2 separate regions of the Homo sapiens genome follow, and region 2 is linked to region 1. Evidence: fine-mapped expression QTL. Tissue or cell type: whole blood. Region 1 holds a variant in brackets; the other region holds the start of a gene. All regions are shown on one strand. Distances are between the middles of the regions.

Region 1 (5,000 bases):
GTTGTACAACCTTTGGATTTTACTGTGAGTGAAATAGGAGATAGTAGAGGGTTTTGAGCAGAAAAAATAGCATGGTCTGACCTGAGGTTTTTGTTTGTTGTTTTTGTCATCGTTTGTTTTTGAGACGGAGTCTCGCTCTGTCGCCCAGGCTTGAGTGCAGTGGCAGATCTCGGCTCACGGCAACCTCCACCTGCCAGGCTCAGATGATTCTCCTGCCTCACCCTCCTGGCTAATTTTGTAACAGGCGCCCAGCCTGTTTTTTTTTTTTTTTGAGACAGAGTTGCTCTGTTGCCAGGCTGTAATGCAGTGGTGCCGTCTCTGCTCACTGCACCCTCAGCCTCCCAAGTAGCTGGGACTACAGGCGCATGCCACCACACCCGGCTAATTTTTGTACTTTTAGTAGAGACGGGGTTTTGCCACGTTGGCCAGGCTGGTCTCGAACTACTGACCTCAAGTGATCCACCCCCTCAGCCTCCCAAAGTGCTGGCATTACAGGCATGAGCCACCGTGCCTGGTCTCTCCATGACCTTTCATCCCTACTATCCACATTGCTAAAGAGCTTCCCCTGTATATCTCAGCGTGCTTTTGGGTGCAGCTTGGTTGGGTGAATTCTTGGCAGTGCAATTCTTGACTATCTGCATTTGCCAAATTTTCTCCCAAAAATGCTTAATGTTTCCTGGTAAACTAAGTTAAAATAATAGCTGGGCATGGTGGCTCATGTCTGTAATCCCAGCACTTTGGGAGGCCAAGGTGGGTGGATTGCTTGAGGTCAGGAGTTTGAGACCAGCCTGGGCAACATGGCAAGACCCTGTCCCTACAAAAATTCAAAAAATTAGCTGGGCATCATGGCACACGCCTGTAGTCCCAGCTATGTGGGAGGCTGAGGTGGGAGGATTGCTTGAGCCCCACCCACCCACCCCGGTGTGGTAGGAGGTGAGCTGAGATTGCCCAACTGCACTCCAGCCTGGGCGATAGAGTGAAACCGTGTCTCACTGTCTCAAAAAAAAAAAAAAAGTTACAATAATAAAGCCCAGTGTTTGGGGATTGTCAAATAAAGCATTGGGTTTGAATTGGATATAAACTAAGACACTGTATTCATGGTAGTTAGGAGTTATTTGGATTGGCTGGGAAGTAGCCACCTTCTCAGAGGGCCTTTATGGCTAAGGTTTCCCGGGGTCTTGCCTTTTTTATTCCGTGTGGCTTCCTTGCTCAGTCTGATTTTGGAGATAAAAGATTTCCTCCCTTTGTTTATATGGTTGATTTTACCGGTACAACAGCCTTTAGGATTGTTTTTCTGGAGTGAGTTGGGGGTGGGGACTTGGGTTTAGGGTATAGGTTCAGGGCCTTCCCTTGATGGTGGTTGGCATCTTCCTATTCTTTAATTAGTCATTTTCTGGTGAACTAAAAAGTGGAAAATTTGAGAGTGGTTGCCAAATTGTGACTGGGGATGTAGCCTGCAGGTTAAACATTGAGAAGCCCAGATTGCTGGCTTTGTTTTCAGGAATTGGAGCCTAGCAAAACAAGGTGACCACCACAGGGAAGTGTTCCTAGGGCTTCTGAGAAGTTTTGACAGCCCCTCTGGAAGTGACTTGTGAATTGTAGAGGTTAGTCTGTTTAGTCCATCTTGGTGTACTGTGTGAAAGCTAACTTCTTAGGACAATGCCATCCAATAGAACTTTCTTTGCAGATGTAAATGGTCTGTAATCTTCAGTGTTCAGTATAATGGTCACTGGCCTTGTGTGACTGTTTGACACAGGAAATAGCTAGTGAGACTGAGGAATGGAATTTTAAATTTTATTTAATTAAAATTTGCATAACCACATGCAATAGTGGCTACATAATGCATTGTGGAGCTCTAGGTGGTTGCCCCCTGTGCCCAACCTGACATTACACTCCCCTGCCTCTTGCTCCAGGAATTCGTATCCTTACTCATTCCTCAGACCAGTTGCTCCATCCCCAAGTCCGTGAAGTCTTTTCTGTTGTCTCTGACTTCTCTCACACTGGTTGGAGGGATAAATAATTGTGTTGTACAATTAAAAAAAAAATATGTGCCAGGCATGGTGGCTCTCACCCCTTTAATCCTAGCACTTTGGGAGGCCAAGGTGAGCAGATCACTTGAGGTCAATAGTTCAAGACCAGCCTGGTCAACATGGTAAAACCCAGTCTCTACTAAAAATACAAAAATTGGTTTGGTGTGGTGGCGCACGCCTGTAGTCCCAGCTGTTCAGGAGGCTGAGGCATGAAAATCACTTGAACCCAGGAGGTGTAGGTTGCAGTGAGCCGAGATCACGCCACTGCACTCCAGCCTGGGCAACAGAGCGAGACTCCGTCTCAAAAAATATATATATATTTTGAGATAAGTATATATATATATATTTTTTTTTTTTGAGACGGAGTCTCGCTCTGTTGCCCAGGCTGGAGTGCAGTGGCGTGATCTCGGCTCACTGCAAGCTCCGCCTCCCGGGTTCACGCCATTCTCCTGCCTCAGCCTCCCGAGTAGCTGGGACTATAGGTGCCTGCCACCATGCCTGGCTAATTTTTTTTTTTTTTTTTGTATTTTTAATAGAGACAGGGTTTCACCATGTTAGCCAGGATGGTCTCGATCTCCTGATGTCGTGATCCACCTGCCTCGGCCTCCCAAAGTGCTGGGATTACAGGCTTGAGCTACCGTGCCCGGCAAAAATAAATATATTTTTTAAATAAAATAAATAAATTGTAAAATGTACTGTCTTTCTTGTTTTCTGGTCATTTCGGATGCTATTTCCCCATGGCTGGATTGAGA[T/G]CTTGGAGCTGGCCAGTCTTTGGGTGTTCCTTTTGTCCTTTAGGTCACATAGGTTGTGCCCATTAAATACTTATTGCCGACTAATTCACTGGTCTGCCTTTCTAACTGATTTCTCCCCTGCCTCCCAGGTGCTTTGAAGAAGAGTCTCACAGCCAAGCAGGTCCAGGCGGATTTCATAACTCTGGGTAGGTCATTGGCCAGGGTTGCTCAGGGTGACTGGCTTCTGAGGCTTTTTATTATGTTAATATCTCCTTCTGTTCTCTTATAGGTCTTAGTGAGGAGAAAGCCACTTACTTTTCTGAAAAGGTATAATTCCTCTTAATCAAGGTTAATGGCTGATTAAGATCCCTTGCTTTTCTTTCTTTTTTTTTTTTTTGAGATGGAGTCGCATTCTGTCCAGGCTGGAGTGCAGTGGCAGTGTGATCTCGGCTCACCACAACCTCTGCCTCTCGGGTTCAAGTGATTCTTCTGCCTCAGCCTCCCCAGTAGCTGGGACTACAGGCACATGCCACCATGCCCAGCTAATTTTTTGTATTTTTAGTAGAGACGGGGTTTCGCTGTGTTAGCCAGGCTGGTCTCGAACTCCTGACATTGTGATCCACCCACCTTGGCCTCCCAAAGTGCTGGGATTACAGGCATGAGCTACTGTGCTCGACCTCTTTCTTTCTTTCTTTCTTTTTTTTTTTTTTTGAGACAGAGTTTCGCTCTCGTTGCCCAGGCTAGAGTGCAATGGCACAATCTCGGCTCACTGCAACCTCCACCTCCTTGGTTCAAGCAATTCTCCTGCCCCAGCCTTCCAAGTAGCTGGGATTACAGGCATGTGCCACCATGCCTGGCTAATTTTGCATTTTTAGTAGAGACGGGGTTTCACCATGTTGGTCAGGCTGGTCTTGAACTCCCGACCTCAGGTGATCCACCTGCCTCAGCCTCTGAAAGTGCTGGGATTACAGTCGTGAACCACCACCGCCAGCCCCTTGCTTTTATATCATGAAGAGAGAAAACAATGGGAAATGCCAAGTAAGGCCAAACCACCTATCAGTATCATCATTTCCCCAGCCTAAGGTTTTCATCTGGCTTCAAGCGCATGTCATACACACAGCTTTAACCAGCACTATTCAGTGTATCTCTAATCATTTCTCCTGATTTGACCCAGTCAAAAATCTGCCCATTTTCATGGATCAGGAGAGGACTTACTTGTAAAAATATACCTCCTACTGGCCAGGCCCGGTGGCTCACGCCTGTAATCCCAACACTTTGGGAGGCCAAGGCGGGCGGATCACGAGGTCAGGAGATCGAGATCATCCTGCCTAACATGGTGAAACCCCATCTCTACTAAAAATATAAAAAATTAGCTGGGCATGGTGGTGGGCGCCTGTGGTCCCAGCTACTTGGGAGGCTGAGGCAGGAGAGTGGCGTGAACCCAGGAGGTGGAGCTTGCAGCGAGCCAAGATCATGCCACTGCACTCTAGCCTGGGCAACAGAGCGAGACTCCATCTCAAAGAAAAAAAAAAATATATATATATATATATACACACACACATATATATATACATATATATGTATGTATATATATACACATATATATGCCTCCTTTCTCCAATTCACTGCTCTCAGATGTCACTGTGACAAAAATAGAGAAAAATAACAAGTGACTGATTGAGAACTTACCCTGAAGACCCCATCTTGCAATTGTCTAGTAGAAGCCATGTGGGGGCCAGTATGATGGCAGCACTGTTTTTTTTCCAAGATGGATTAAATCTTGGAATGAAAAATACAACATTAATGTTGTGGTCTGCCACTCTGTGCCCTCCTCCATCCCTAGGTATGTGCATATAGACTGAGCCCTTCGTTCTGCACCCTCCCCACTATCTTCTGCACCCTCCCCACTATCTGTGTCAATGCTAAATATTGCAATGTTTAGGGCAGGATGGAGAGGGGGAGATTTTCCTATTGTAATTGACTTTGTCTTTTGCTTTTGTTCCAGTGGAAGCAGAATGCTCCCACCCTTGCTCGATGGGCCATAGGTCAGACTCTGATGATTAACCAGCTCATAGATATGGAGTGGAAATTTGGAGGTAACTAGTTACAACCAGTCCTGGGTTATTTGGGTGGTACAGGGTTGGGGTGCAGAGGCTGTGACACAGCCACTATGGGGAAGGCATGACCTAGTCCCTAGCACTGTTGGGGCAGCAGCTGCTGTTTTGTATTCTGTCCACAT
Region 2 (5,191 bases), 33 kb after region 1:
CATGATCCAGCCTCTGTTTCTCCTCTTGCCTCGTGTCTGGCCAGCCGCTCCATGCCTGCACTCCCTCTGCTGCTCCGGCCTCCAGTGGCCTCCCAGGCTAACACCTCCTCATTTGTCACATCTCAGCTCAAGCATCATCTCTAGGAGGCCTTCCCTGGCCACCTGGCTCTGCATCCTCTCACACCCCATCATGCCTTATGACACTTGACATCACGTGCAACCGTGTATTTATCTGTTGCTCTTTTTAGTGGCTTTCTCTTCTTGGCCCAAAGCCTGGCACTGAATAAATATTTGTTGAATGAATGAATAAACTAATGAATGAACAAATGAGCAGGTGTGCTGTGGGACTCAGATGACCCCACAGCTGGGACTCAGTGCCCTGGGAGTGGAGGGACACAATGTGTTCCTAAGCCCATGGGCCAGAGTCAGGGAATCCCACATAGAAACTGGCTTCCCCTGGGCTTCCAGAGGCTGCCAGGGAGCATCACTGCCTTAGGCCTCCCGCCCGGAACAAGAACAGGCCTTCCTGGAGCCACTATTGTGGTCAGCATTGTTGTGGTCCTTGCTGCCCTCGCAGCTGTGCTCCCTGGAATTCCCAGGTGGCTGTGTGTGTGTGTGTGTGTGTGTGTGTGTGTGTGTGTTAGTGGGGTGGGCGTGGGGGAAACCTGGAGCCCTGACCCTGAGGCCACCTGCCTCAGTGGGTTGGACAGGGAGGCTTCTTGAAGATTGACCCCCAACCTGAGTCTCCCCAGCGGAAGGGGAATTCGGCTGGTGGGGAAGGTGGGGGAATGGGCGTGGCGTATTCTAGGCTTAGGGATCCCAGGGCTGCGGGAGGACAGCCAAAGCTGGAGCGCCAGTCGTGCAGGCCAGAGCTGATGGGGCTTTGCCTACCATGCCAGGTGCTGCTTCTGGAGGGTGGGGCAGGGGGAAGGATTTGAAATGAGGTAGCAACAGCACAATCAGAATTGTGTTGTTCAAAGGCCTTCCTGTCACGGGGAGAGGATAGGCCACCACAGGTTCTTTCCTATCTCCCTCTTTCCCCTCCAGACCTTACCCCTTCTAAAATGGAGGCATTTTGTTTGTTTTCGCTCAGAACCCAGTTCCTCATGAACTGTCATTGTAAATAGACCGGAGGCCAGAACAAAGGAAGATTTTTTAAAATTATTTTTTCCTCCTTTAAAGACTAGCTTAATGAGAACTGCTGACATGGGGTAAAGTACAGCACGCCCAAGCTGAGAGAGGTGTGGGGGTACCCTAGACTGGGAAACTGAGGCCCAGGGAGAAGCACTGCTGGGCAAGGAGCATCCCTCTACATCCCAGGTGGGGTGGGCGCTCCACACACCAGTGTGATGGGAAAAGTGGAGGTGATGAGTGTCCTCACCTGGGCACAGCCTGGCCCTCATGAGATGGAACGTGCAGGGAGCCTTTTGGGGGAGGGTTCAGGAGGAGAACTGGGTGGTTTGCCCAGGAACTCAGAAGGAGTATTCCCTAGGCGGGTGGGTAGCGTGTGGAAGGACACCTGAGGCAGACAGAAGACACAGAGACCCAAGGGAGAAGGAAGAACGGCTGGGTTTAGAGACGTGGACGTAAGTGAAAGGGCAGAGCCAAGGATGCAGCAGGACAGGAGGGAGGGGGTTAATAACACACTTGAAGCCCACGGTCCAGGTTTGATTTCATTTAACTTAGTTTACTCTGGACCCCTGAGTCTCTCTCAAATTTGAATGGCCTTTTTTTCCTTTTGAAGGGGGATTCTTTAGGAGGAAGGGCAGAGAGGGCACCAAGCAAGTAGATACTGTCTCTAATAAAAGTTTTGGTCATGGCCAGGCGCAGTGGCTCACTCCTGTAATCCCAGAACTGGGAGGCCCGAGGCAGGAGGATTGCTTGAGCCCAGGAGTTCAAGACCAGCCTAGGCAAAATGGCAAGATCCCTATCTCTACAAAAAAAAAAATAATAATACAAAAATTAGCTAGGCATGGTGATGTGCACCTAGTCCCAGCTACCTAGGAAGCTGAGGTGGGAGGATTGCTTGAGTCTGGGAGGTCGACGCTGCAGTGAGCTGTGATTGCACCACTGCACTCCAGCCGTGGTGACAGAGTGAGACTCTGTCTAAAAAAAAAAAAAGGAAGTTTCGAGGGTGAGATGAAGTAAAAGACTGGAATGTTCTTGAGACATTGGGCTAGAGATTGTCATTTGTTTTTGCTACTTAAATCCAGGTGCTCTGGGCTAACCTGATTGGGCCCCTGATGCAAAAGCGCCTCCTGGTGGGTGGTTCTGAAAACACTGAATACTTTCCTCCCCCTGCCACCCAGTAACAATATTAATAATACAAATACAGCATTTTTTTTTCCCTGCAGAACAAAATTCCTAGAAGCTGAAGGGCTGAGTTGCTGAACATGAGCATTTTACTTTTAGGCAGATTACATCAAAGTCTCTTTCCAAAAAGTTGGCACCAATTGGCACCCCATTTTTGGTGCATTTAAATATTAAACACCAAGATGAGACTGGATGGATCCCTCTCCTGAAATGTCCTGTCCATAAATGAAAGAGCTGGGGCCAAGCTCACGGTGGCTCACGCCTGTAATCCCAGCACTTTGGGAGGCCAGGGTGGGAGGATTGCTTGAGCTCAGGAGTTCAAGACTAGCCTGGGAAATATAGGGAGACCCCTGTCTCTTAAACAAACTTAAAAAAAATGGCTGGATTAAACGACAACAACAGTTTCAGGGACCCAGTCTTTTCTGAACAGTGTCTCCCCCGCTCAGCTCTCACAGATCATTGAGGTGGGCGGGGTTAGACCCATTGACAGTTGGACCTGCAGGGCCAGGTCACATAGCCAGTGGGTCTGAGCTGACTTTTCTTCCCAAGCCTGTGTGATCCCCAAAACCCTTGGCTGCCCCCACTCTGCCCCCCGCCTCCCAGCCCTTCCAGCTGCAGCCTTTTCACTCATTCCACCACCACTCAGCTCTGAGTGGCTACGCTGGCGGGCTCTCTGCTTTGCGTCGGAGACATCACAGTGAGCAAAGGCAGATATGTTTTATGTGCCCTTGAAGAATCTCCCAGACAAACGTGTCATTGCAGTCGGAGCCAAATGGCCGGGGCAGGTGGCACAGATGAATGCCGGGCAGAGGAGCCTGCAGGTGGGTGGAATGCAGCCTGTCTGTGCTGAAAGTGTGGGGTGACCCTGGGGTTTTAAGCAGGGGATGGTGACCAAAAAAGCCAGCAGAAAGACCAGTGTGTGGTTTTGAAGCTGCTGCCCTAGACTCCCTGTGCCTCATGTGTCCCTTGGAGCTCCACCTGGGTCTCTGTGCCCACGGGGCTGCGGTGAGGCTCCCCGAATGTGGGGACCGTGTGGCCGTTGAGCCCATCTCCGGCAGCTATGGCTGAGGCGCCAGCCACTTCCGCCCTGTGCTCTCTCTGTGGTTGGCTACGGGGGCTGAGACACCTCCGGCCAGTCTTGAGGGGAGCAGGAGGAGGCTGCTGGACTGTCCCCCATGGCAGCCACAGGGCCTCTTCACTCCCTCCTGCCTCTGTGGCTCCAGGGGCCCAGCTCAGCCTCTTCCTGCCGTTTGTACCAGCCCTGGGGCTCCTCAGGAGGGCGGGCTTGTCGCTTGTTCCCCCAACCCTGCAACCCCTCCACTTCCTCTCCTCACCCGCCCCAGGGTGTGAGGTGGGACACAGAGAGATGCCCAGCCCTTACTACCAAGGAGTCTTGGGTCTTGAGGGGGCTTCTTTTATGGCCACTCATTTCAGCCCCTAGATCCTGCCAGTCCCATATTCTTCACTCCCTGAGGCCTTCTGGCTCTCAAAGCCCGAGTCTAGTGCCTTCCTACCAGCCATCTTCACCAGGCCCCTCTCCTATGCTGGGTCTGTTTAGATGCAGGGGCACAGGGAGTAGGAAAAGGTCTCTGCTGCCGGAGCCCACAGCCCTGTGGGAAGACAGCAGGGCCAGGTGGCAGTCAGGGAGAGAAGCACTTTTCTGGAACTGTGTGAAATGCTGTGAGCTTGGGGGAGGCAGGGGAGGGAGTGGGGAGGGTAGAGGAGGAAGAGTCCCAGAACAAAAAGGCCTGGTGTGGTGAGAAATTCAGGAGGGAATAAAAGGGAACAAGAGCAAGAAATAGAGACAGGCACACTGTGGTTCTTGGTTTTTCCCACAAAACTAAAGCTATTTAAATTGAAGAAGTATTTTTTTTTTTTTGGAGATATTGTCTTGCTCTGTCACCCAGACTGAAGTGTAATGATGCAATCATAGCTCATTGTAACCTTGACCTTCTAGGCTCAAGCAGTCCTCCTGCCTCAGCCTCTTGAGTAGCTAGGACTACAGGCATGCGCCACCACACCCAGCTAATACATATGTATGTATGTATGTATGTATAATATATATGTAATATATTTTATGTGTGTGTATTTATTTTATTTTATTTTATTTTTTTGAGACAGAGTCTTGCATTGTCACCTGGGCTGGTGTGCAGTGGTGGGATCTCGGCTCACTGCAACCTCCATCTCCTGGGTTCAAGCGATTCTCCTGCCTCAGCCTCCCAAGTAGCTAGGATTACAGCTAGCTACTGTAATAGCTACTGGGCGCCCACCACCATGCCCAGCTAATTTTTTGTATTATTAGTAGAGATGGGGTTTCACTGTGTTGGTCAGGCTGGTCTCGAACTCCTGACCTTGTGATCCGCCTGCCTTGGCCTCCCGGAGTGCTGGGATTACAGGCGTGAGCCACTGCCCCGGCTCCTCTTAAATTTTTAAGTGCACGCTACAGTATTGTTAACTATAACCACAATGTTGTGCAGAAGACCTCCGGACATTTTTATCTGTGTGACTGAAACTCTATACCCATTGAACAGCAACTCTCTGTTCCCCACTCCCCCTCAGCCCCTGGCAACCCAACCCCCATTCTACTATTTTTTTTTTTTTTTTTTTTTTTTGGAGACAGAGTTTCACTCTTGTTGCCCAGGCTGGAGTGCAATGGCACGATCTCGGCTCACCTTAACCTCCAACTCCTGGGTTCAAGCAATTCTCCTGCCTCAGCCTCCCGAGTAGCTGGGATTATAGGTGTGCGCCACCACGCCCGGCTAATTTTGTATTTTTAGTAGAGACAGGGTTTCTCCATGTTGGTCGGGCTGGTCTCAAACTGACCTGAGGTGATTTGCCCACCTCGGCCTCCCAAAGTGCTGGGATTATAGGCGTGAGC

Evidence for each region. PIP is the estimated chance that this variant, and not a neighbour inherited with it, causes the effect.
Region 2: C20orf203 starts here. The variant in region 1 is fine-mapped to the expression of C20orf203 in whole blood (TOPMed, PIP above 0.99).

The regions. Positions count from the first base shown.
Region 1 is chr20:32,704,671-32,709,670 of GRCh38, reverse strand. It overlaps COMMD7 (COMM domain containing 7), which reads left to right. Exons shown (of 9, transcript NM_053041.3): 4 at 2,911-2,967; 5 at 3,051-3,088; 6 at 4,767-4,857. Among named protein-coding and RNA genes, the nearest start is that of C20orf203, 33 kb to the right of the region's middle. RefSeq lists enhancers at 303-809, 3,419-4,166. The variant T/G (reference allele first, on the strand shown) is at 2,783.
Region 2 is chr20:32,671,575-32,676,765 of GRCh38, reverse strand. It overlaps C20orf203 (chromosome 20 open reading frame 203), which reads left to right and starts at 2,825. Exons shown (of 6, transcript NM_182584.4): 1 at 2,825-3,134. RefSeq lists enhancers at 504-1,206, 2,058-2,127, 4,078-4,577.